Homo sapiens: one gene and its partners. The protein of the gene in region 1 binds, or shares a complex with, the protein of each later gene. Each region holds a gene or a part of one and is shown in the gene's direction. Other genes may lie near its edges.

What was found. The genes of interacting proteins can lie anywhere in the genome.
Region 2: the proteins of USPL1 (region 1) and SUMO2 are in contact, whole or in part, in a crystal structure (PDB 7ZJV), measured with the Homo sapiens proteins. Residues at the interface, in NP_005791.3 of Homo sapiens: Ala234, Cys236, Trp237, Gln322, Leu323, Arg324, Met330, Glu331, Ser332, Val334, Phe335, Leu339, Thr378, Thr380, His393, Gly395, Pro396, Asn398, Arg407, His421, Phe422, Val423, Glu424, Tyr451, Asn454, Asn455, His456, Phe457, His493; in NP_008868.3 of Homo sapiens: Gln25 (codon at 5,672), Asp26 (codon at 5,675), Gly27 (codon at 5,678), Ser28 (codon at 5,681), Val29 (codon at 5,684), Arg59, Arg61, Gly64, Gln65, Pro66, Ile67, Asn68, Asp71, Gln75, Leu76, Phe87, Gln88, Gln90, Thr91, Gly92.
Region 3: the proteins of USPL1 (region 1) and SUMO3 are in contact, whole or in part, in a crystal structure (PDB 7ZJU), measured with the Homo sapiens proteins. Residues at the interface, in NP_005791.3 of Homo sapiens: Ala234, Cys236, Trp237, Pro321, Gln322, Leu323, Arg324, Met330, Glu331, Ser332, Val334, Phe335, Leu339, Tyr368, Thr378, Thr380, His393, Phe394, Gly395, Pro396, Asn398, Arg407, His421, Val423, Tyr451, Asn454, Asn455, His456, Phe457, His493; in NP_008867.2 of Homo sapiens: Gln24, Asp25, Gly26, Ser27, Val28, Arg58, Arg60, Gly63, Gln64, Pro65, Ile66, Asn67, Asp70, Leu75, Phe86, Gln87, Gln89, Thr90, Gly91.

The regions. Positions count from the first base shown.
Region 1 is NC_000013.11:30,612,936-30,620,926, forward strand, and holds the start of USPL1 (SUMO-specific isopeptidase USPL1), read left to right. Parts: upstream 1-4,984; 5' UTR 4,985-5,121; exon of another isoform or gene 5,122-6,805; intron 6,806-7,991. UniProt on the Homo sapiens protein: SUMO-specific isopeptidase involved in protein desumoylation. Specifically binds SUMO proteins with a higher affinity for SUMO2 and SUMO3 which it cleaves more efficiently. Also able to process full-length SUMO proteins to their mature forms.
Region 2 is NC_000017.11:75,179,958-75,186,808, reverse strand, and holds the start of SUMO2 (small ubiquitin-related modifier 2 isoform a precursor), read left to right. Parts: upstream 1-3,849; 5' UTR 3,850-3,974; coding exon 3,975-3,995; intron 3,996-5,620; coding exon 5,621-5,752; intron 5,753-6,851. UniProt on the Homo sapiens protein: Ubiquitin-like protein that can be covalently attached to proteins as a monomer or as a lysine-linked polymer.
Region 3 is NC_000021.9:44,815,061-44,822,749, reverse strand, and holds the start of SUMO3 (small ubiquitin-related modifier 3 isoform 1 precursor), read left to right. Parts: upstream 1-4,687; 5' UTR 4,688-4,781; coding exon 4,782-4,802; intron 4,803-7,689. UniProt on the Homo sapiens protein: Ubiquitin-like protein which can be covalently attached to target lysines either as a monomer or as a lysine-linked polymer. Does not seem to be involved in protein degradation and may function as an antagonist of ubiquitin in the degradation process.

The DNA.
Region 1 (7,991 bases):
CAGATCTGCTAGAGCTACATGTCCAATTACGAGAATATACTGGAAAAAGCCCTGGATTAGAAATGAGAGGATGTAGGTTTTAGTACCAGGTCAGCCACCTTGTTAATGCAAATTTGAGTAAATTGTTACTTCTTTTAGGCCTTGTTTTTGCTGTTTTGTTTTTCTGACAGTATGGTCTCTGTGGTCCAGGCTGGAGTGCAGAGGCACAATATCAGGTCCCTGCAGTCTCTACCTCCCAGGATCAAGCCATTTTCATGCCTCATCCTCCTGAGTAGCTGGGATTACAGGCATGTGCCACCACACCCTCGAACTCCTGACCTCAAGTGATCTGCTTGCCTCAGCCTCCCAAAGTGCTGGGATTAGAGGTGTGAGCCACTGTGCCTAGCCTTACACATTGTTTTCTTACTGGTAAAGTGGGAATATCTAGAAGTTGCATGCTACATAAATTCAACCATATATTATTGGCAAAAAATTTTAAAGAAAAACATCAGCTTAAGAGTACTAATTGAGTACATGCCTTGGAATGAGCATGAGCTGGAAAGAACAAACCTGTTGTTACATCACTCATTGCTGTTTTCATATGCTGCTCATTGTAAATCTTGCTCAGTGGCATGATTTTAGTGTTTAAAGATTTATTTGTTTGTTTGTTTAGGACAAAGTCTCTACACATAATCTACTTGCTTCATATATACATACTTATGCATATTATGTATGTACATACATGCTCTCAGGGCTCACATGAAAAAACAGCCATTCAGGTGATGTGATTTATCTCATATGCTTACTTTAGAGTCAACAGGGTGTTGACTCCACTATACAATACTGGCATGGAGAACACATAAGTCAAAGTAGACAGGACCCAGCCGTACCATTGGCTAGGGCACAAATATATTCACATATGTGGAGAATGATGTACGTAGAAAGGTCTTCATTGCACAATGCTCTTTAATAAAGATCTGGAAAAAAAAAACACCTAAATGTTCAAAAGGATAGGGTAGATGAAATAATGGTACATTATAAAATGGAAGATTATGCAGCCATAAAAATAAGGAAATACCTTAAATAATAACAGAACAACTTTTAAGGTAAGTGAACAAATAAGGTACATAATCACTATGCATAGTATGTACCATTTACATAGAAAAAGGGAAGAAAAATAAAATATATATAGTAATTTATTTGTTCTTACATGTGTAAAATTTTTCTGAAAAATATACCAGAAACTGGTAGCACTGGTTGCTTCCTAGGCAGAAAATGACTGAGTATCCTTTTGTACCTTTTGAATTTTGAACCACGTGAATGAATGTGTTACCTATGAACAAAATGACAAGTTTAGATCAGCAAGACAGCAGTTTGAGATGAAATGGGATTACACCCTTAGTAGGAAAAACTTTTTAAAGCAGGTGGTACTTCTAAGAGCAAATACCTGCACATGGAATGTTGAAACTATAAGGAACTCTCCTTAAGAGATCCATCTATTCCAAACTTCTCATTTTATAGATCTGTAAACTGAGACCTTAAAAATTCAGTGACTTGCATAAGGTCACACAGCAGAAGAGATGGGATTAGATGCTAGATATTCCAATATCAAGTTTAGACTATTAAAAATTCAGTGACTTGTGTAAGGTCACACAGCAGAAGAGATGGGATTAGATGTCAGATATTCCAGTATCAACTTTAGACTATTATCACACCATCTTCTCATTTTCTGGGGGCAAAACAGAACCAAGTAAGTTTGGGCTACATTACGAGTTGTCATGTTTTTGTTTTTGTTTTTTTGAGATGGAGTCTTGCTCTGTCGCTCAGGCTGGAGTGCAGTGGTGTAATCTCAGCTCATTGCAATCTCTGACCCCCGGGGTTCAAGCAATTCTCCCTGCCTTAGCCTCCCGAGTAGCTGGGTTTACAGGCGCCTCCCACCGCGCCCGGTTAATTTTTGTATTTTTTTTTTTTTTTTTTAGTAGAGACGGGGTTTCACCATCTTGGCCAGGCTGGTCTTGAACTCCTGACCTCGTGATCCACCCACCTCAGCCTCCCAAAGTGCTGGGATTACAGGTGTGAGCCACCACGCCCGGCCGAGTTGTCATGTTTTATCTAAATTTTAGAGTCTAATGTATAAATTAACCTTAAGCCCTGAAACTACTAATTTCTTGTTTGGATCACTATACGGCTACACTTAAAAATATGCTGTGCATACCTCTATCATTGCATGTATACAATATGATAGATGCATGATATGACAGACACACAATATGATACACGTATTTTTTTCTATCCTAACACATCTGAATTTACTGAAATAACTAAAATGTCTTAAGTTACTTTTTTAAATATACACATGCATAGCACAAGCGTGTTGCCAAAAATATGAATACAGGTTTACAATTCCTTAACTAAAACCCAAGGGTTGGATGTGTTTTAGAAATAAGAATTTCATACAATTTTTAAGTGTTACAGGGTATATAAACCATTATATAACACATACCAGGGGCCAAGGGCAGCACCCCATAATCAAACATATTAATATAGTTTCAGCAAAACACATGGGATAAAGACTATATACAGCTTCTCAATAGTTCAGGTCATATTTTGCTACCAAATGAATTTTGTTGCCAAGCTTAAGAAGTTTTTGGTTTTCACCGCTTTCTGAATGTTAGATTGAGATGTGGGATTACAGACTGTACTCATAGAGTGCTTCTAGAAAGCAGTCAGTCACTTCAACTCTCATTTTTTTTTTATGAGACTAAAAAAGAAATCATAGCAAGTAGCTTTTATATCCCAGGTTTGGGCCAAAGACTTGTATTGTGGTTAAGGAATCTAACTTAGTAGAAGGTGCACGAGCTGACATCGTGAGTGGCTAAAATGAGAGAAAAAAAGAGAAAATCCTAATCATACAGAAGCACTGAACTACTGCAGCTGTTCGTTAGTTATTAATTTAATAAAAGCTTCCTCCCTTTAAATCATGTGAGTTTATAACTGGAAATAGGTCAATAAAATTTCTGTCCCACACTGCTGACAAGCGATGGACGCAATTAGCTTTAATCCCACTGGAAGGTACTGCACTCTCTCTGGGACCAGGATATGTAGAAAAAAGCATTTCAAATATATAGGAATAACCAGAAATGTATACAGTATTCTCAACTTGGGACCGTTACTCTATAATATAAACGAAAGGGGTTTTCTAGTCAATCTCTGCTGATCTCCTGTACCAAAGTTCTTCCCTTTATAAGTCTTGTACTACCTTTTACAAGAGGAAAAAGCTCTAGAGCGAAAACACAGAACACACTAAAATCCCTTCCTTTCTCTTTACAACTCAAGCCCCGCCTCCATTTTGTTTCTGTTACTAATTTTTCTTCTGAAAAAATACCAAATTTACACTGAAAGACTAAAATTCAACTTTGCAGACAACGTTTTAAAAAATACAATTCAGTTTGGTGATGTTGTTTTGCAGTCTTACAATTTTAGCTACATTTTAACTGAACCAATTGTTTTGTTCAATTTATGAGTTAATACTCAGCAAGTTTGTTTTTTACAAATAGTGTATTCCATTCTAAAAATGGAAGTAGCAGTGGTGAACAAGAAAACAACCCTCTGAGTTTTGTCTATTTCAGGAGGAAGTACTACTTTCTCCAATTTTAATCACAATTCATAAAAAAGAAAAACCTAACTAGCTAGATCTTAAATATACAAATACATTAACAATCTAGTAAAGCAACAGAAAAAGGTAAACAAACTAACCAGCCTATTTTTGTCTGGAGAAACCCCAACAAACTGCTGGATTCCTTGGCCATTTGCATTCAGAAGTACCAAAAACTAAAATCCTTTTTACTAAATAATTTCTTCTACACGAGACTTGTTTCCTCCACACCACCCTATCCAAATTGTCAGCATTATTCCAGAATATAATCATTTAGTTTGAGACCACTAAAAAACCCCGCAGTCCAAAATACCAATTGTGGTTTTTCTGTAAAGAAATGGTCAGAAACTACAAATTGTTATCCTAGGACACAGAACCAATCGACCAAAAGGACTTCTGGAATATGCTGCCCCCAAGATTTAGAATGCACAGGCAGAAATAGCATACGCGGTCACGATGTCCCTTAAGCCACATGACCTTCCTACGAAAGCAAAGGCTTAAACTTATCAAATGAGAACTCCCCCTTTCTCTGAAGTTAAAACAAGGCAGGGCAGCTGGAATTAGAGCAGCAGGGACAGATCGGCTGTTGACTAGTCAGAACGGGTCGTGGAATGCAAAGTCCCTGCGCTTTCGCTGCTCCCCTTACCGTGAGAAGATCTGGGAGGGAGGAAAGGAGGAGAAACACCCCAGAATCCTGGTAGAAAAGCCCCTGGCCTCGAAGATGGGCTCTAGGGAGACAGGGAGGGGCAGCTCCGTGTGTGATGACCCTTTGTGAACATGCACTCTGTGGCAGCTTCAGCTCCACCGAGGCTTTGGGAGAGCGGACTACGGATGCCCGGCGCGGCCCAGCTGTGAAGGCCGCGCCGGCGGAGAGGGTCCATGGCACCCCCGCCGGCTTCGGAAGCCCTTCCCTCTCCCACCTCCGCGGGTCACCCCAGGAACCAGCGGCTCCCGACCACGCTCGCGCGGACCACGGAACAGCGACGCGCAAGCAGGTCTCTTTCGTCAGCGTAATCCCTCCGCAGAAAGCCGCGCACTAGTTTTAATCACGCCCCACCCCCTGGCCGCTGGCGCCACCTCCGCCACTCGGGCGCTTTCCAGCAGCTTCCAGAAACGTCGCCTCCCCAAACCCAGCCACTCACACATGGCGGGCTCAGCAGCCACCGGCCCCGCCCCTCCTCGTCGCCGCAGTCGCAACTGCGTCTGCGGCCACAGGGCGGACAGCCACGCCTCTGCGGAGGGCGACCGGAAGTGCTCACGTCTTCACCTTCCCCGCCACGCCACCGTCCTTTCAGGCCCAGCGTGCAGCAGGAAGGAGGACTCTTTTGCCGCGGACTCAAGCCGGAAGCCGCCTTCCTAGTGGAGACGCGAGTGGGGGAGGAGCAGTCCGAGGGGAACGTGGGTTGAACGTTGCAACTAGGGTGGAGATCAAGCTGGAACAGGAGTTCCGATCGACCCGGTACCAAGAAGGGGAGTGCCCGCGGCAGGTAAGGGAGAAGAGGGAGGGGTTTCTTTCCGCTCTCGAAATTGGGAAAAGAGACAGAGCTGGGATGACCTATGGGGTAGTCGGCGCGCTGAAAGGATGGGCTGGGCTGGGACGGGGTTCAAGTGGGAAAGGTTGATGATTAAGGTATAGAGTTGGACTTACAGATCCGTTTGGGCGCAGAGAGGTGAACGCTGAAGAGAAACCAGAGTTTGTTTTCGTTTTCCAAGGAGCGTGGAGATGGGCAGGGTTAACGGACCCTGCGCCTCCTTCGGCTTCTTAGTTTGGGTGTTGAAACTCACCTCCTTTGGTCCTGTTCGTCTCTGATTCAAGACAGTTGGGTTTGGTACCTGACAGGGCTGGGTGCAGAAAGCTGACCCTGTTCCTCGGCTTCCAGGTCGGTTGTGGCCTCGCTTTTGACAGTTCACGTGCCGAGCCTACTCGCTCTCGGAGGGCGAGCTCAAATGGGTGGGTTTAAGGCCCCCTCTTCGAACAGCTGTTTCCCTGGGTTTCTCCATTTTGCACACAGGAGTGTGAATTAAGTTTAATTGAATACTTTTTGCGATTCCCAGGGCCACCTTGACACGTTCATTGTGCTATCTAACTGGGTTCATGCTGGGCTAATAATTCACATTAAGGCTTCTGGAGTATAAGTGGTTCACAGAAGTATGAAAAGGGGATGTTAGAAGAAAGATGCTGGGGGTGAAGTAGAGTTGAGGAAGACAGAACTGGAAAGCTAGGTTGGTTTCACAGTACAATGAGCTTTAGGTCATAATACTACCTTTAGGTTATATTGGGCTGTTTGGACGGAGTTTGCTGTAATCAGGCTAGAGTAAATAGAGAATTTTAAACTAAGCATTGACAGGCTCAGACTTGTAGAGGCATCATTTTGACAGTGATATGGAAGGGAAAGAGGTAGAGATTTGAGACCTTTCCAAAGAACTGTCCACAGAATTTGGTGACTTACTGTGCGAAGAGGGAAATAAAGAATAGGGAACAACTCAAGACTTTCTAGTCTGTGTGTTTGGAAGGATGGAGACGCCCACATTTAAGTGAGATATGGGAAGGAGGAGCAGATTGTTTTTGAAGGGAGGAAGAGCAGTTACTTAGGGTCAAATTAAGTTGTAAAATCCCCCCCGGGATTTTGTATGTAAGTCAAAGTGAATTGTATTTGGAAGAAGAACTGGGGAGCCCACCTCTGGTATTTTTTTTATGTCCCTCATATGGACAAATAAACCTCTGGTATTAAATGAATTTTCTTTTGGGGGATTCTATATATTCGGGATTTCAACCACCAACCTATCTGGTTTTTCCCGCTGAAATGTTGGGTGATGGAATCAGGAGAGCAGATTTGGAGACTCTTTATATTTTATAATTGAGAGAGACAAAGAGAAAACCGTTTGATTTGAAAAAGTTTTCTAGGTTCCCTCAGGTAGATGGAAATTTTCATCAAAAACAGTTTATTCAAGGTACATAGCCTACTAGTTTCCCATTTGAGAGTACCGCAGAATGATACGACGTGTACTGCTTCTCTACGCAGAATGAAGTATAAAATTAGCACCAAATAGTAACTTTAATTTGTCAGGTGCTAAACTTTTTACATGCTTTATCTCATTTAATTCTTAGAAGAAACTAATTTTACAAGTAAGTGTCTGGACCAACATCTGCAGGTACAAAGCCTGAAAAGCGTAAGTTTGACTCCTACATAGTTCTCTTTTGTAAGTAGATTATAAATAGAACCAGCCAAAGGTAATAAGTTGTCTGTGCCTAAAAAGAAAGAAAAAAGTTAGCATCAGTAGTTCTCACCAGAAGGGGTGATTTTGCTTACCAGGGGACATTTGGCAAGTCAGGAAACTTTTGGCTGTTGGATCTAGAGGGTAAAGGTCAGTGACGCTGCTAAACATCGTCAGTGCATAGAACAGCCTTCACAAACAATTATTTGGTCAAAGATATTTGTAGTGCTGCAGTTGAGAAATTTCTGTCTTATGGTTATTTCTTCAGGAATAGGAAATTAAGATTCGCCGATACTTTCTTTAAAAAGCAGTTTTATTTTTGAAATTATTCCTTGGCTTGAAAGGTTTGTGAAGTTTATATAGCCGAACCAGAATAGCGTAATTAGATTTTAAAGTGAATTGTGAGCCATCGATTCCCAGGAGATGGGTGTCATAGAATCATGGATTCTTGGATTTGGGAAAGACTTATGCCTAGAATTATTTTACAACATTTCTGCTAAGTGGTAATTCTCCTCTGCCCTAAAGGTCTCCTGTATTTGATTTTCCTATCATTGTGAACCCACAATTAAAATGCTCTTAATTATTTTTTGCTTACACTGAGCTCCGGTCTCTTGTAATTTTTACTCTGTTAAATGTGGTTCTGCACCATAGGACTGCACTCAAAACAAGCTTGCCACATATGTAATTTGTACTAGGACAGTGTTTATATTTTTGTTCAGATAACAAAATAAGTTAAATGTGGTGTAAATTAGATCATTTACAAATAATAATTTGTTAGCAGCTTTTAATAAGTAGTATTTTTCCCAACTGGTGAAGTATTAATGTTGGTAGTTGAAAACAATAGGAATGTATGGAATATATGGTTCACTGGTTCTTTTGTTCCTGTCAAATAGTGGCACAATGGATCTGGGGTTTTTCTCAGTATAATGCTGGCATATTTGTTTCAAATTGTACATAGACTCTAAAAAGTTAGGCTTTCAAATTCTGGTCAATATAGTTTGCTTTAAATAGTAGCTGCCTCTACTACAAGTTTTATTTAATTTGTTGACAAATGAGTCTGCTATGAAAACCGGTCCTGTTGCCAGTCACTACCCTCTGTTCACAAATTTGCTGGGTTTATAAATATAGGTATCATTTTCAC
Region 2 (6,851 bases), on another chromosome or scaffold:
CTCATTTAAAAATCCATGAATAATGGAGGTACTATTTATTTTTTTTTGAGACGGAGTCTCGCTCTGTCGCCCAGACTGGAGTGCAGTGGCGTGATCTTGGCTCACTGCAAGCTCCGCCTCCCAGGTTCATGCCATTCTCCTGCCTCAACCTCCTGAGTAGCTGGGACTACAGGCACCCGCCACCACGTCCGGCTAATTTTTTGTATTTTTAGTAGAGATGGGGTTTCACTGTGTTAGCCAGGGTGGTCTCGATCTCCTGACCTCGTGATCTGCCCGCCTCGGCCTCCCAAAGTGCTGGGATTACAGGCGTGAGCCACCGCACCCGGCCTGGAGGTACTTTAAAACAGATGGGTTAGGCTGGGCGCGGTGGCTCACGTCTGTAATCCCAGCACTTTGGGAGGCCAAAGTGGGCAGATCACCTGAAGTCGGGAGTTCGAGACCAGTGTGACCAACATGGAGAAACCCCGTCTCTATTAAAAATACAAAATTAGCCAGGCACGGTGGTGCATGGCATGCCTGTAATCTCAGCTACTCAGGAGGCTGAGGCAGGAGAATCGCTTGAACCTGGCAGGCGGAGTTTGCAGTGAGCTGAGATCTTGCCATTGCACTCCAGCCTGGGCCACAAGAGCAAAATTCTGTCTGAAAAAAACAAACAAACAAATAAACAGCCGGGCGTGGTGGCTCACGCCTGTAATCCCAGCACTTTGGGGGGCCGAGACGGGCACATCACGAGGTCAGGAGATCAAGACCATCCTGGCTAACACGGTGAAACCCCATCTCTACTAGAAATACAAAAAATTAGCCGGGCGTGGTGGCATGTGCCTGTAGTTCCAGCTACTCAGGAGGCTGAGGCAGAAGAATCGCTTGAACCCGGGGGGCAGAAGTTGCAGTGAGCCGAGATCGTGCCACTCCAGCCTGGGCGACAGAGCGAGACTCCGTCTAAAACAAAACAAACAACAACAACAACAAAAAAAAACAGATGAGTTAGGAGGGTATTTCCATATTGCAGTATCTTTGTGTTTTTTTGTTTTTTTGTTTTTTTTTTTGAGACGAAGTCTTGCTCTGTTGCCCAGGCTAGAGTGCAGTGAGTGGTGTGATCTTGGCTCACTGCAACTTCTACTTACTGGGTTCAAGCGATTCTCCTGCCTCAGCCCCCTGAGTAGCTGGGAATACAGGCGCCTGCCACCATGCCTGGCTAATTTTTGTATTTTTAGTAGAGACACTGGGTTTCACCATGTTAGCCAGGCTAGTCTCAAACTCCTGACCTCAGGCAATCCATCTGCCTTGGCCTCCCAAAGTGCTGGGATTACAGGCGTGAGCCACCAGAGGGTTTCACCATGTTAGCCAGGCTGGTCTCAAACTCCTGACCTCAGGCAATCCATCCGCCTCGGCCTCCCAAAGTGCTGGGATTACAGGCGTGAGCCACCAGAGGGTTTCACCATGTTGGCTAGTCTGGTCTCAAACTCCTGACCTCAGGTGATTTGCCCGCCTCGGCCTCCCAAAGTGTTGGGATTACAGGCATGAGCCACCGTGCCCGGCTGATATTGCAGTATCTCTTGAGAGTGTTTTTTTTTTTTTTTTTTTTTAATGGAGTTTCGCTCTTGTTGCCCAGGCTGGAGTGCAATGGTGAGATCTCAGCTCACCACAACCTCCTCCTCCCGGGTTCAAGCGATTCTTCCGCCTCAGCCTCCCGAGTAGCTGGGATTACAGGCATGCGCCACCACACCCAGCTAATTTTGTATTTTCAGTAGAGACAGGGTTTCTCCATGTTGGTCAGGCTGATCTCGAACTCCTGACCTCAGGTGATCCTCCCACCTCGGCCTCCCAAAGTGCTGGGATTACAGGCATGAGCCACCATGCCCGGCCTCTTTTGAGAGTGTTGATCTGAACTAGATGGTCTTCCTGCTTTGGCCTATCACACATCTAAGGTCTTAAGCCTCTTCCTCCCCAAAGAGAACCTACAGAAGGCCAGCAAATGCAGCTCCATCCAGAGGCCAAAGAAATTAGATTTGGTAAGAAGGTGGAATAGACAAGATTTGGCCAAGATTGATTGGATGAGGAGTGTGTGAAGGAGAAGAAGTCAGGAATGTTGCTGGCCTTTCCAGCTTGGGGCAGCTGTTGTAGTGGTGTGTCACTCAGTTTAAGAGTGACAGGTCAGGAAGAAGGACCCATGTGGAAGGTAAAGTGAGGAGTTTTAGTTGAGAGTTGCTGGGTCTGAGGTGCCTCTGGGATATCCAAGTGGAGATGTTCAGAAATCAACTGGAAACTCAGAAGAAAGACGTGGACTAGAAATAATGGATTTGAGGATCATTAGCAAAGAGATGGTAATGAAAATCGGTGAAATCATCCTCGGAGAGGGAATGGAGTGATAAAAGGATCTTGAAGAAAACCCTAAGGAACAGTTAAGGGAAGGAGTGAGTAAGAAAAAAAATTGCAGAGAGAACAAAGGACAGGCTAGAGATGAGAGGAAAACCTACCTCCTGCAAAGTTCAAGAGGAGTGACAAACTGAGAAGCATACTGGATTCAGCAAAGAAGTCTGCGGTGACCTTGTGGAGAGCAGTTTTAGTGGAACTTTGGGGACAGCACCAGATTGCAGTGGGTTGAGGAGTGAGTGGGAGGGGAGGGGTTGGAGACAGCTGGCGGGGACATTTTTTCGAGCTGTTTGGCCAAGAATGGAGAGAGATAGGATGGTAACTTCATAGAATTGGGAGCTTTTTTTTTTTTTTCTATACTAACGGAGGAGAGGAAGAAAATTCAGGGACAAAAGGAAATAATAAAGCCCCGGGGGAAGAAGCGAGATGGAATCCAGTGCACACACATCGGATTGTTCTTCAGACAGGAGGGACGCATGTGTATGTTTTAACTGGATGCAACGAGGAAAGGATTAAATTGGCTGGAAGCTTGATTGTTGGGTAGTTCTCGCTTATGGATACTGTTTCCTCTTGGAAGACAGGCGATGAGTAAGGATCTCGTTGAATGAATACATGAATATTTTCCCGTAGCTAGTCAAAGTCTAGGGTTACCAGCAGGACAGAAGAAGACACTGTAGGCCGGGCGCGGTGGCTCACGCCTGTAATCCCAGCACTTTGGGAGGCCGAGGCGGGCGGATCACGAGGTCAGGAGATCGAGACCATCCTGGCTAACACGGTGAAACCCCGTCTCTACGAAAAATTAGCCGGGCGTTGTGGCGGGTACCTGTAGTCTCAGCTACTCGGGAGGCTGAGGCAGGAGAATCACTTGAACCCGGGAGGCAGAGGTTGCTGTGAGCCGAGATCGTGCCACTGCACTCCAGCCTGGGCGACTGAGCGAGACTCCGTCTCAAAAAAAAGAAGAAGAAGAAGAAGAAGAAGACACTGCATTTTAGGCAAGAGTCCGGTGGGAAGCAGGTTGAGATTGACTGAGAGGAAGTAACCATGGGAGGGCTGCTGGTCCACTGAATGAGAGAGATTTTTCCAGAACCTCATGCTGGGGCTTTGATTTAGGAATCCCCTTCCTCCTCTAGTAAGTCTGCCTTCCCTGGCCTATGGCTTACGTCTAAAGCCTCGAGCCTCATCGTTCCCACCGAGGACCAGCTGGAAGCCATTTTGATTATGCTCCACCACGAAGGAGGACAATACAGCCCCGCCCAGAGCCAGGCGCGCCCCCGCGGCGGGCCGGGTGCGCGTGTCCGCGCCTCTTCCCGCCGGCCGGGCGGGCGCCTGGCCCAGGACGCGGTGGCGTGGGACGGGGGGTGGGGGTGGTTATGTAAGCGTTGCGCGCTCCCGCGAGGCGCCAGCCAATGGGAGGCTTCGGCTACTCGTGCTCGCGCACGCAGGGTGGGGGGAGGGAGCGCACGACGTGCGCGCACCCTCTCCCCTCGTCCACCGCTGCCGCCTCCTTCTTCTGCCGCTCCTGGTGCTGCTTGTGTGCTCGTTTGGTGCGGACCTGGTACCTCTTTTGTGAAGCGGCAGCTGAGGAGACTCCGGCGCTCGCCATGGCCGACGAAAAGCCCAAGGTGAGCTCGCCGCCGGCCCCTTCGCCTCGCCGCGCGGTGGGGGTCATGGCGCGGGCCGGGGTCCGGCCAGAGCCCGCCGCTGGCTCCCAGCGCTTTCCCGGGCCCCCCACGGGGCCGGCCGCGGCTCAGGCCCGGGCGCTCCGCGCCATTTTCCTCCCTCCCTCTCTTCCTCCCTCCCGCGCCGAAGGAGGCCCCGCCGCTCTCTCCCGCCCCCGGCGGCCTCCGAGTGCGCGCCGGGCGCGAGTTGGGCGGGCAGAAAGCGGACGCCCGCGGACCCACCAGCCCCGAACGGGGATTCTTGGCCCAGCCGGCCGGCGCGCGTGAGGAGGGGCGTTAGGGCGCGCGGGGTCTCCACCTTCTGTCGACCCCGCGTCGGGTGTTGCAGTCTCCGAGGCGGCGAGGAGTCCTCTGGGCTCGGGCTTCACCTCTCGGGTAGGAACCGCGGGCATCTGGGGACCCCTGCCTGGGGCCGCGGCGGCGGGGCGAGGGTTCGGGGCGAATCAATGGGCTGCGGACGGGCAGGAACCTGGATGCCCGCGGGCCGCCGTCCTGGGCCTGGGGGTAGGGGGATTCCCGTGGAGTATTTCCCACTTTAATAGCCTCAGGGGCCCGAAGGGGGAGGGGCAGCGGCTTTTCCCTGGGTGCCAACGAACCCCTAATCCGCGAACACCATGTGGTTTCATGAAGTTGGAGGCACAGGTACGAGCAGAGAGACTTTGTGCGGCTTAACTTTTGAACGCGGCTTTTGAGGCACCCGGAGACTTCCCGGGAGGACTTGGGGACACCCATCATCGGGGCACACGGGACTTGCTGCTTTTAGTTTGGTGGCACCCCCCGCCTCCCGCGCCTTTACTTTCTGGAGCGTTTTAGGGCTACAGAATTGCTTCTGCACTCGATTTTGGACAACTTTAGGTTGGGTCGAAATCTACAAGAAACAAATCAGGATAAAACTGTGTATTTGACCCATGACAACAAAGGGGGGGAGGGGAGAATAAGTGCTCTTAACCGAAAATAAAAATGAAGCTGCTAATAGAGGAGAACGTTAACTGTGGTCCTGACTGAGTATTACCGCTGTTCCGGGGGGAATCGGGATATTCTTCGATTGTTTTTTTTGTTTGTGTGTTTCCTTTAATGGAGATTGGATTTAGGTTATTAAACTGAGTTTGGTAACTTTTTAATGACAACGGTAATGAGTTTTGAATGGCAGGCTGTAGATTTATTGTTTTGTTTCTTGCAGTTGTACTTAAAGTGCTTAGAAAAGAGAAGGGACTCTATTTTTAACTTTTTTGGGGGGTAAAGTATTTTGGGAGTGATATATGTCATTTTAGGAAGTTTAACTTCAAGAGAACGTTGCAATACACTGAATAGGACCCAACTTTAAACATATTGTTGCTACTGATAGTATTGCATGTAGGCTTTTCCGTATCTGACAGCTATCTAATACTGTTACTGCAGGATTTTTCCGCTTTCACATTGATTTCAGCAGCTGAAAACAGCAGTATGCCGTTTTAGCATACAGTATGAGAAACCTGTTGATTTTTGAAGCAACTAGGGCTGCTGCTGCTTTATAAAACGTGTTCGTTGATCACATTTCCCAAATTATACTTTTATTTTTCTTTTAACAGGAAGGAGTCAAGACTGAGAACAACGATCATATTAATTTGAAGGTGGCGGGGCAGGATGGTTCTGTGGTGCAGTTTAAGATTAAGAGGCATACACCACTTAGTAAACTAATGAAAGCCTATTGTGAACGACAGGTGAGGAATTCATATGTGTACTTCCACTGAATAAAACTATTTTTAAAAATCTTATTTTCATGGGAACAAAAACTAGACTAGCACATTACAGTGACTTTTTGATGGGATGAATATGCACTTGGCACGTCAGTTTTGTCGTGCACTTGGTATATTGATAGCTCGTGAAAACCCTTAGGATGATTTGGTTAGTATTATATGTGGTTCCAGTCCTGTGCCAGAAATCCATCAAATTATATTTACAATAATTTTTTTTTACCAAGGAAATGTAATTTTATGTTTATAAGAAAATAAGAGTGAACTTGGTAAAATTACTTATAAGTCTTTTATTATTTTATTTTATTTTTTTGAGATGGAGTTTCATTCTTGTTGCCCAAGCTGAAGTACAGTGGCCTGAGCTCAGCTCACTGCAACCTCCACTTCAAGCGATTTTCCTGCCTCAGTCTCCTGAGTATCTGGGATTACAGGTGCCCACTACCAGGCCTGGCCAATTTTTTTTTTGTATTTTTAGTAGAGATGGGGTTTCACCGTATTGGCTAGGCTGGTTCCAAACTCCTGACCTCAGGTGATCCGCCCGCCTCGGCCTTCCAAAGTGCTGGGATTACAAGCATGAGCCACCGCGCCAAACCAAGAAGTCGTTTTTTTTTTTTTTTTTTTTTTTTTTTTTAAGCTGGGAGTCTCACTCTATTTCTTTTAAGCTAGAACTTATCTACCTTGTAAATTGTGTTTTATTTTTGTTTTTGTTTTTGATGGAGTCTTGCTCTGTTGCCCAGGCTGGAGTGCAGTGGTGCAATCTTGGCTCACTGCAACCTCTGCCTCCTGAGTTGAGGCTATTCTTATGCCTCAGCCTCCTGAGTACCTGGGATTTCAGGCGTGCGCCACCACGCCCGGCTAATTTTGTATTTTTAGTAGACCTGACCTCAACTCCTGACCTCAAGTGATCCGCCCACCTTGGCCTCTCAGAGTGCTGGGATTACAAGCATGGGCCACTGTGCCTGGCCCCTTCAGATTGTTCTAAATAGGCTCAAAATAGAATAAGGCTTAAACCTATGTAAGTTGGGAAATTGAGTTTGAGTTTATACTTGAAAGATCAGTGAAGATA
Region 3 (7,689 bases), on another chromosome or scaffold:
AGGCTGGTCTTAAACTCCTGACCTCCGGTGATCCACCCACCTCCGCCTCCCAAAGTGCTGGGATTACACTGCACCCAGCCTGAATATTTTCTTCTGACCTATCTTTCAGTTCATTAATCATCTCTTTCACTGTGTCTAATCTGTTTCAAACCCATCCATTGAATTTATAACTTCAGCTATTGTTTTTTTAATTTCCATTAAATTGTTTTTTATATACCCCACTTCTCTGCTGAACATTTCCATCTCATAATCTATTTTCTTGAACATATTAATCACATTACCTTAAAGTGTATGATAATGTCAATATCCTGTTGACATGATAATCCCATGGAATTATTCCTACTTTATTTATATATATATTTTTTGGTTTTGGATCATTTGTCTCCTGGTTTTCTTTGTAAACTTTAAATCTGGATATTGTATATGGAAATATTTTAGTTAATTTGAGGCCCTGGATGATGCTATTTACCTCTGCATATTTCCTTTTGCTTTGGGCTGGCTGTGGGAAAGAGAGCAGATCAACTTAGTCTGGGAGTCAGCCCTTTGGAAGCTTGGTTTCAGACTTTGAGAGGGACGATCTACTCACCCCTCAGCCTTCCTCCCCTATTGCAGCCCTCAGTGCTCTCAGCTGAAGGTCTGGGTCACTCATCAGAGTCTCCCTATCTTGTGGGCTGTCACCAATTATTGTCTCCCCAACCCTAGGAGATGCAAAAGCTCTGCTCAGTGTGTCAACTTCTTTCCACTGCATATGTGAGACTGAATTGTGTCCCCCCAGCATTCACATGTTGAAGCCCTGACCTCCAATGTGATTTCATTTGGAGACAGAACCTTTAAAGAGGTGATTAAGGTTAACTGAGGTGATAAGGGTGGGGCCCTAATCCCAGAGGACTGGTGTCTTTGCAAAAGGAGGAAGATACACCAGAGATCTCTCCCTCTCTGCAGACACAGCAGAAAGGCCATTGTGAGAACACGCCAAGTTGGCTGCATACAAGTTGGGAGGAGAGGCTTGACCGGACACCAACCCTGATGGCTCACTGATTTTGGGCTTCCAGTCTCTAGAACTGTCTGGAGGCTGGGAAATAACTATCAATGGTTTAAGCTGCCCAGTCTGTATTATTTATTTATTTTTTTTTGAGACAGAGTTTCACTCTTGTTGCCCAGGCTGCAGTGCAATGGTGCTATCTTGGCTCACCACAACCTCCGCCTCCCAGGTTCAAGCGATTCTCCTGCCTCAGCCTCCCGAGTAGCTGGGATTACAGGCATGCGCCACCATGCCCGGCTGATTTTGTATTTTTAGTAGAGATGGGGTTCCTCCATGTTGTTCAGGCTGGTCTCAAACTCCTGACCTCAGGTGATCTGCCTGGCTCAGCCTCTCAAAGTGCTGGGATTACCGGCGTGAGCCACCGCGTCCGGCCCCCGGTCTGTATGTTTTTATGGAAGTCTAGGCTAACACAGGATACTAATCACCAAGTGCCTCAAAGGAAAAAAACTCTTCCCTTTTCTTTTTGAGGTGGGGGAAGGTCTTTGCCCCTCACAGAAAGACTTCTTTTGGTAGCTGATAGCCTTAAACAGATTTAAAGAATATTTTATACTGATTTTTGGGCTATTTTTGTTGGGTTTGTCTGAGGCAACCAGTCCTCCCTAACTGTAAGTAGAAACGTCTCTGAACGCCTCAGGGATTTCTCCTCACATGCCAAGCATCTGTGTCAGTCTTCTCACTCAGCCATTGGATACTCAGGGGCCCTTTCCATTTATGGAGTCAAATATTTCTTTAGTTCAGAGAAATTTCTTATTTTTACTTTTTCTTTGAGATAGGGTCTTGCCCTGTTGCCCAGGCTGGAGTGCAGTGGTGCGACCTTGGCTCACTGCAGCTTCTGCCTCCTGAGTTCAAGCTGATTCTCCAGCCTCAGGCTTCCAAGGAGCCAGAATTACAGGCACACACAACCACACTCAGCTAATTCTTGTATTTTTAGTAGAGATGGGGTTTCACCATGTTGCTCAGGCTGGTCTCAAACTCCTGACCTCAGGTGATCCGCCTGCCTCAGCCTCCCAAAGTGCTGGGATTACAAGCGTGAGCCACCGTGCCTGGCCTCAGAGATATTTTCTCCAATTCTGTCTTTGATTTTGTCCTGGTTTCCTTTTTTCCACCTTCTCCTGCAGCTCCTGTCAGGTGGACGTAGCCCTTCCTGTACTGATGCCCGGTGTCTCGGCCTTCCAACCTTCCCTCTCTCTTTTCTTTTTTTTTGAAATGGAGTCTCACCCTGTTGCCCAGGCTGGAGTGCAGCGGCACGATCTTAGCTCACTGCAACCTCTGCCTCCTGGGTTTAAGCGATTCTCCTGCCTCAGCCTCCCAAGCAGCTGGGATTACAGGCATGCGCCACCAGGCCCGGCTAATTTTTTTGTGGAGACGGGGTTTCACCATGTTGACCAGGCTGGTCTCGAACTCCTGACCTTGTAATCCACCAGCCTCAGCATCCCAAAGTGCTGGGATTACAGGCATGAGCCACCCAGCCCAGCCCTGACCTTTCCTCTCTTAACTTCTCCATCATGGGAGAGTCCTGTGACTTTGTCTCGCAGTTCTTTGCGTCCTCAGCCAGGACCCCTCTCCTAGTCACATGTGGGTCGAGCTTTCATGTCAGCAATGCTGTTACTCATTTGCCAGTTCCCTGCCTTCTCATGAGTCTTCTTGTTGGGACCATCGCCAGGTGTGGCGACCCTCCGGAGGGGCTCTGGCCATTTGGGTTCTTTACCCTGTGCTCGTGGTAGGCCACGGTTTTTCCTGAGCTCTGGTTCCTCCGTCCATTCGATCCCCTTTGGCTGTGTCCTTCAGAAACCTCTTGGCGTTCGGTCCACCAGCGGTGTCCTTTGTGTCCCCACAGCTGCGACAGAGCCTTTTTGCATCTTTGCTGTCACATGAAGGATTCGGGGCAGGTCACAGTGTGGGAGACAGACACAGCATGAATTGAATTCAGACCACCATTGTCTTATAGCCTGGCTTTTTAAAACCTAATGTCATCTGAGCCTCTTTTTCCCTTATCCATGACTGTAGTCACGCATCACTTCGTGACACAGCAACTGGCGTAATTTCGAGCGGTAACACATTTGGGTTCTGTGTCTCATGATTTCTAAGCTGCGTGTTTCTCACTTCCACAACACTGAAGCGGGCTGCCGTCATCCACAGCCTGCCGGAGTTTAGTGTGTCTGTGCTACCTACGGTCGTGTTGTTTTATGATTAACGGTGTCTTGGAGTCGATAACTCTCTGAACCCTGCCTGCCCTAGGGCACTTCCAGGGCCAGCAATCTGTGGGCTCTGAGGCGCCACGTCCCCTCGGAAGGGGCTGGTTGCGGAGCCCCCTCCCAGGACCGTCTGAGCTGGCCACCCACCTCCACATCCTCTGCTGAGGCCCTGGGCTCCAGGTTCCAGAAGGAAGGGACCACACCTTATGACCTGCCTGGGACTGGGGCTGACTCTCAGACCCTCTCCCCGAAAGACTTCAGCAGCCTTCCCCCTCCTAAGTGGGGGCTCTAGCCAAGAAAGTGAATTTTTGAGTAGAAGACGGTTTGTGAAGTTATGGTCCATGAAGACTTGTCTCCATGGCTTTGCGACGTTGCTCAGTTGGCTGAGCCTTTCCCAGGCAGGACAGAAACGGCTCAGACGCTTAGGTTCAAATCCAGGCCCTGCCATTTCCCAGCTGAGCCTGAAGTGCGGCCTCCCCCGCCTTCGGCCGGGCTCACCATCAGATGAGACCTCCGCCACGCCCCGGCTGGCACCACCCGGGCACTCCTGAGGGACGCAGGGGTGTCCGCCCTCAGGTCCGTTCCATCCGAGGCCCTGGGATCACAGACATGGAGGCCGGGGCGGGCCAGGCACCCCAGGAATGGCGCCCGCAAGTCCGGGGAGGCCGTCCTGCCGGCCCAGCGCGTTTCCCGCGTCCACGAGGTCCCCGTTCCGCCGGCACTGGCGGCGTCCAGCCTGGGTTTGCCCGCGCTCGCCGACGTGGCGGCCTGGCCAAGCTCGGCGCCGCTCACCAGCGCTGACCTGGGGGTGGTTTGACCTCCCAGTGCCTCAGTTTCTTCACAGGTAAAACGGGTCTTCTTGAGGACGGGTGTGGAGGGCCCGGGGCAGCCCCGTAGGAGCGTTGGCCAAAGGAGCCCGGCCTGGGGCTGACAGGAAACCGCGGCGGCAGGGAGGCGGGTGGCGCCCCCAATCGTCTAGGGTGCTGGCCCGATTCGCGCGGCCCCCGCGGACGGGACCCCGCGGGCCGCCTTCTCCGCTCTGTCCGCGGCTCCTGAGAGGGAACGTCACCCCCAGCGTCCTCCCTCCTCCGCCCCAGGTCCCTGCGGCCATGGGCGGCGGCCCCGGCCTCACTTCCCGGCGCCCCAGGAACGCGGCCCCCAGGAAAGGAGTCGGGGCCCGGGCGACGCGGGGAGGCGGGCAAGGGTCCCCAGGGCCCGGGCTCCCCGTAAACGCTCCTGGCCCGCGCCCCACAGCGCCCTAGGGCTTCCGCGCCCGACGGGGTCGCGCGGGACCCGCCCCGTGACGCATCTCCAACCGCCCAGAGCCGCGGCCCGGCCTGCGCGCGCCCGACGCCCCGGGGAGCGCGCCTCGTGAACGCGCGCAGCCACGTGACCCCCGTGCCGGCCAACGGGTGCGCCGGGATTTGGGGGATAAAGCGCGGCCCCGCGCACAGTTGCGGCGGGAGAGCGGCGGGGCCGAGAGCGTGACTCGCCCGCTCCGCGCTGCTTCCCCCGCGCCGCCTCCCCGCGCCGCTCGCGCAGCCATGTCCGAGGAGAAGCCCAAGGTAAGCGCGGCGACCCCGCCTGCACGCGCGTCTATCGCGGGCGTCCCGCCCCCAGCCCGGCTCCGCCCCCACCCCGACTCCGCCCCGCGTCCCGCCCCTGACAGGCTCCGCCCCTCCCCGCCCTCTAGAGCCCCGCCCCTAAGTGGGCCCGCCCAAGGTGCGCCCCCTCTGCCCCCGCGAAGCGCGCTGTGCCGCGAGCTCCGCCCCCTCCGGGCCTGGCCACGCCTCCGCTCCACGCCCGTCTCCTCCCCAGCTGGGAAGGCGCGCGCCCAGCGCCTCCTTGAGCGCCCGGTGTCGGGCCCCGCGCTGCTGCTCCTGCAGAGCGCGGCGCCCTCGGATCCCGCCCCAGCAGTGTCCCCGAAGCGTCTTTGCGTGCTCCTCTCCTGAGTCATTGCTGGTTGGGGTCGCCCTCTCCCCCGGCATCGCCCTGGGTGCGGGATCCTGTGTCGAGTGCACGGAGTCGGCTCGGGAACAAGCGTCTGGGGTTACCCCCAAGGGGCGCGCTCTGAGGGGCCTGGCCCCTGTGAGCAGCACTGCCGTCCTTCCAGGGCGCCCATCGCGACCCCGGTATTCACCCACTTCTCCGCATCGTGTCCCGGCCATCGCGTCCCCCAGTGTGCGCCCACCCCTCTCCTTCGTGTCTCCCCAATCGTGCCCTCAGTGTGCACCTACTCCCACCCATCGCGCCCCGTGTGCACCCACCGCCTCCATCGCGTCCCCCGGTGTGCGCCCACCCCTCCCCATCGCGCCCCCCGGTGTACGCCCACGCCTCCCCATCACGCCCCCCATGGTGTGTACCCACTCCTCCCCATCATGCCACCTGGTGTGCGCCCACCCGTCCCCATCATCGCGTCCCTGGTGTGCGCCCACCCCTCCCTATTGCGTCGCCCTCTCCATCACACCCCCAGTGTGTGCTCACCCCTCCCCGTCGCGTCCCCCAGTGTGCGCCCACCCCTATCCATCGCGTCCCCCTTTCCATCACACCCCCAGTGTGCGTCCACCCCTCCCCATCACCCCCTCCACGATGTGCGCCCACCCCTCCCCATCACGCCCCCTATAGTGTGTGCCCACCCCTCCCTATCACGCCCCACGGTGTGCGCCCACTTCTCTGCATTGCGCCTCCCCCACCATGCGCGCCCACCCCTCCTTATCCAGCCTTGGGTGGGCTTTAGTCTCCCCCATTGCCATGCTGGGGTGTGCCTCCCTCCAGTCTCAGTCCTGGGGTATGCACCCTGCATTCAGGTGCACTGGCCATTCCTTCTCGGGAGGGTCTGTAGTCGCATTCTCCAGTGTTCATAAAAAGAGAACCTTTCCGAAGCCCTTGGTGTGCACTGTCGGCCTCTATGTTACATCCCAGTGGAAGATGACTAGAGCTGAAGGCTCTGTAAAGAGGCTGTCTCTGATACTGGCCTGGTCCTGGAGGTGACCACCCTCCCTTTACAGATGAGGGTGGAGGCTCAGTGCCAGACACTGGCGGGAAGTGGGATGGAACCGTCAGGAACCATGGTCGCGGCCTCTATGGAAGTCTGCACTCTGCTTGCTGTGGTCAGACTCCAGGGAAACCTGCCCTATCCAGATGGCATTTGGGGTGACCTTTGCTTTTTACATTTTGACTCCAGTGAAGTCAAAGTTCTCCCACTCTGGGGTTGTTTGAATATTTAAATACTTGTTAAAACTAGGTCAAATATAAATGTCCTTTATGTTTTTGTAGGTGGCTTCCTCTTAATGAAGAGTAAATGTAATAAAATACATATGATATTAATTTTCTCAGCAGTATTTACACTTAGCTCTGCCATGTGGTCAATCTCAGGCTCCAGTTCCGTTGAAAACACTTGTTTAATTCCAGAATGACTGAGTGGCTGCCACCTCACAGGCCCCGCTTCTGGTGGGTCCCCTCTGAGCCCATGTGGGAGCAGCTCTGCCCTCTGGGGCTCTGACGAAGGGGAAGAGGTGGACTCTGGGGCCCGGTGGTGCTGGAAAGAAGAGCTTTTAGGTCAGGCAGGAGAATGGTTCTGACTTCCCTGGATAGCTGAGGTGGAGGATTGACTGTAGCAAACTGAGGCCCATGTTTTTAGGGCTTCACTTTTTAACTCACGAGTTCACTTGCTTATTAGGAATTCACCAGGGGTCTGGGACAGATCGTCATTCTGTTTGGAGCAGAGGCACTGTGGCCGGCCCTGCCCTGCCCCAGCCTCTCCCGGGGCTGCAGCCATTCCCCCCGGGGCTGCAGCCATTACCCTGTGGGGGACGTCTGGGCCCTGCATCTGTGCCTTTGAACACACTCATACCTTCCTTCCCTAAAGAAGCCAGTGCATCCTCATGCTTGGGGAAGTGAAGGGGGCTCATGCAGGGGTCCCCACTTCCATCCTGCCTGGAGCTGTTTGCATGCTCTTCCTTCCTAGGCCAGTTGTCTCTGTGCTGGAGGCCACATTCGGGATGGGGAGATGGGGGTGTGCCAGCTCACCACTCAGGCTGCCGCCAAGCCACTGGCATCCCGGGAGTGGGCAGGGGTGTCTGGCCCAAGACTGGAGTCGGGGGGTGAGTGCCGCCCCAGGACACGCACCTTCAGGCTCGCAGCTGGAGCCCCTCACTGCCAAGGCCCCTTGCAGGCCACTCTAGCTCCCTTGACAGAGCACCATGCCTCCCCAGGGTCTCCCCAGGGTGCATACCCCAGGGAAGCAAGCATGGGTGCAGTCCCTGGGTTCACCCTCAGGCGAGCCTTCTACATCCCACTCCCTGTATTTAGGCATCGCTGGGACAGTTGTCCCTCTCCCAGCCAGGGAAGGAAAGGAGAAGTGGAGAGAACAGGCGTGTGATGTACAGTGCTTCCTGAGGGCAGCAGCTCAGCATGGGGTGAAAGGGTACCAGGACGCCCCAGACTTGACTT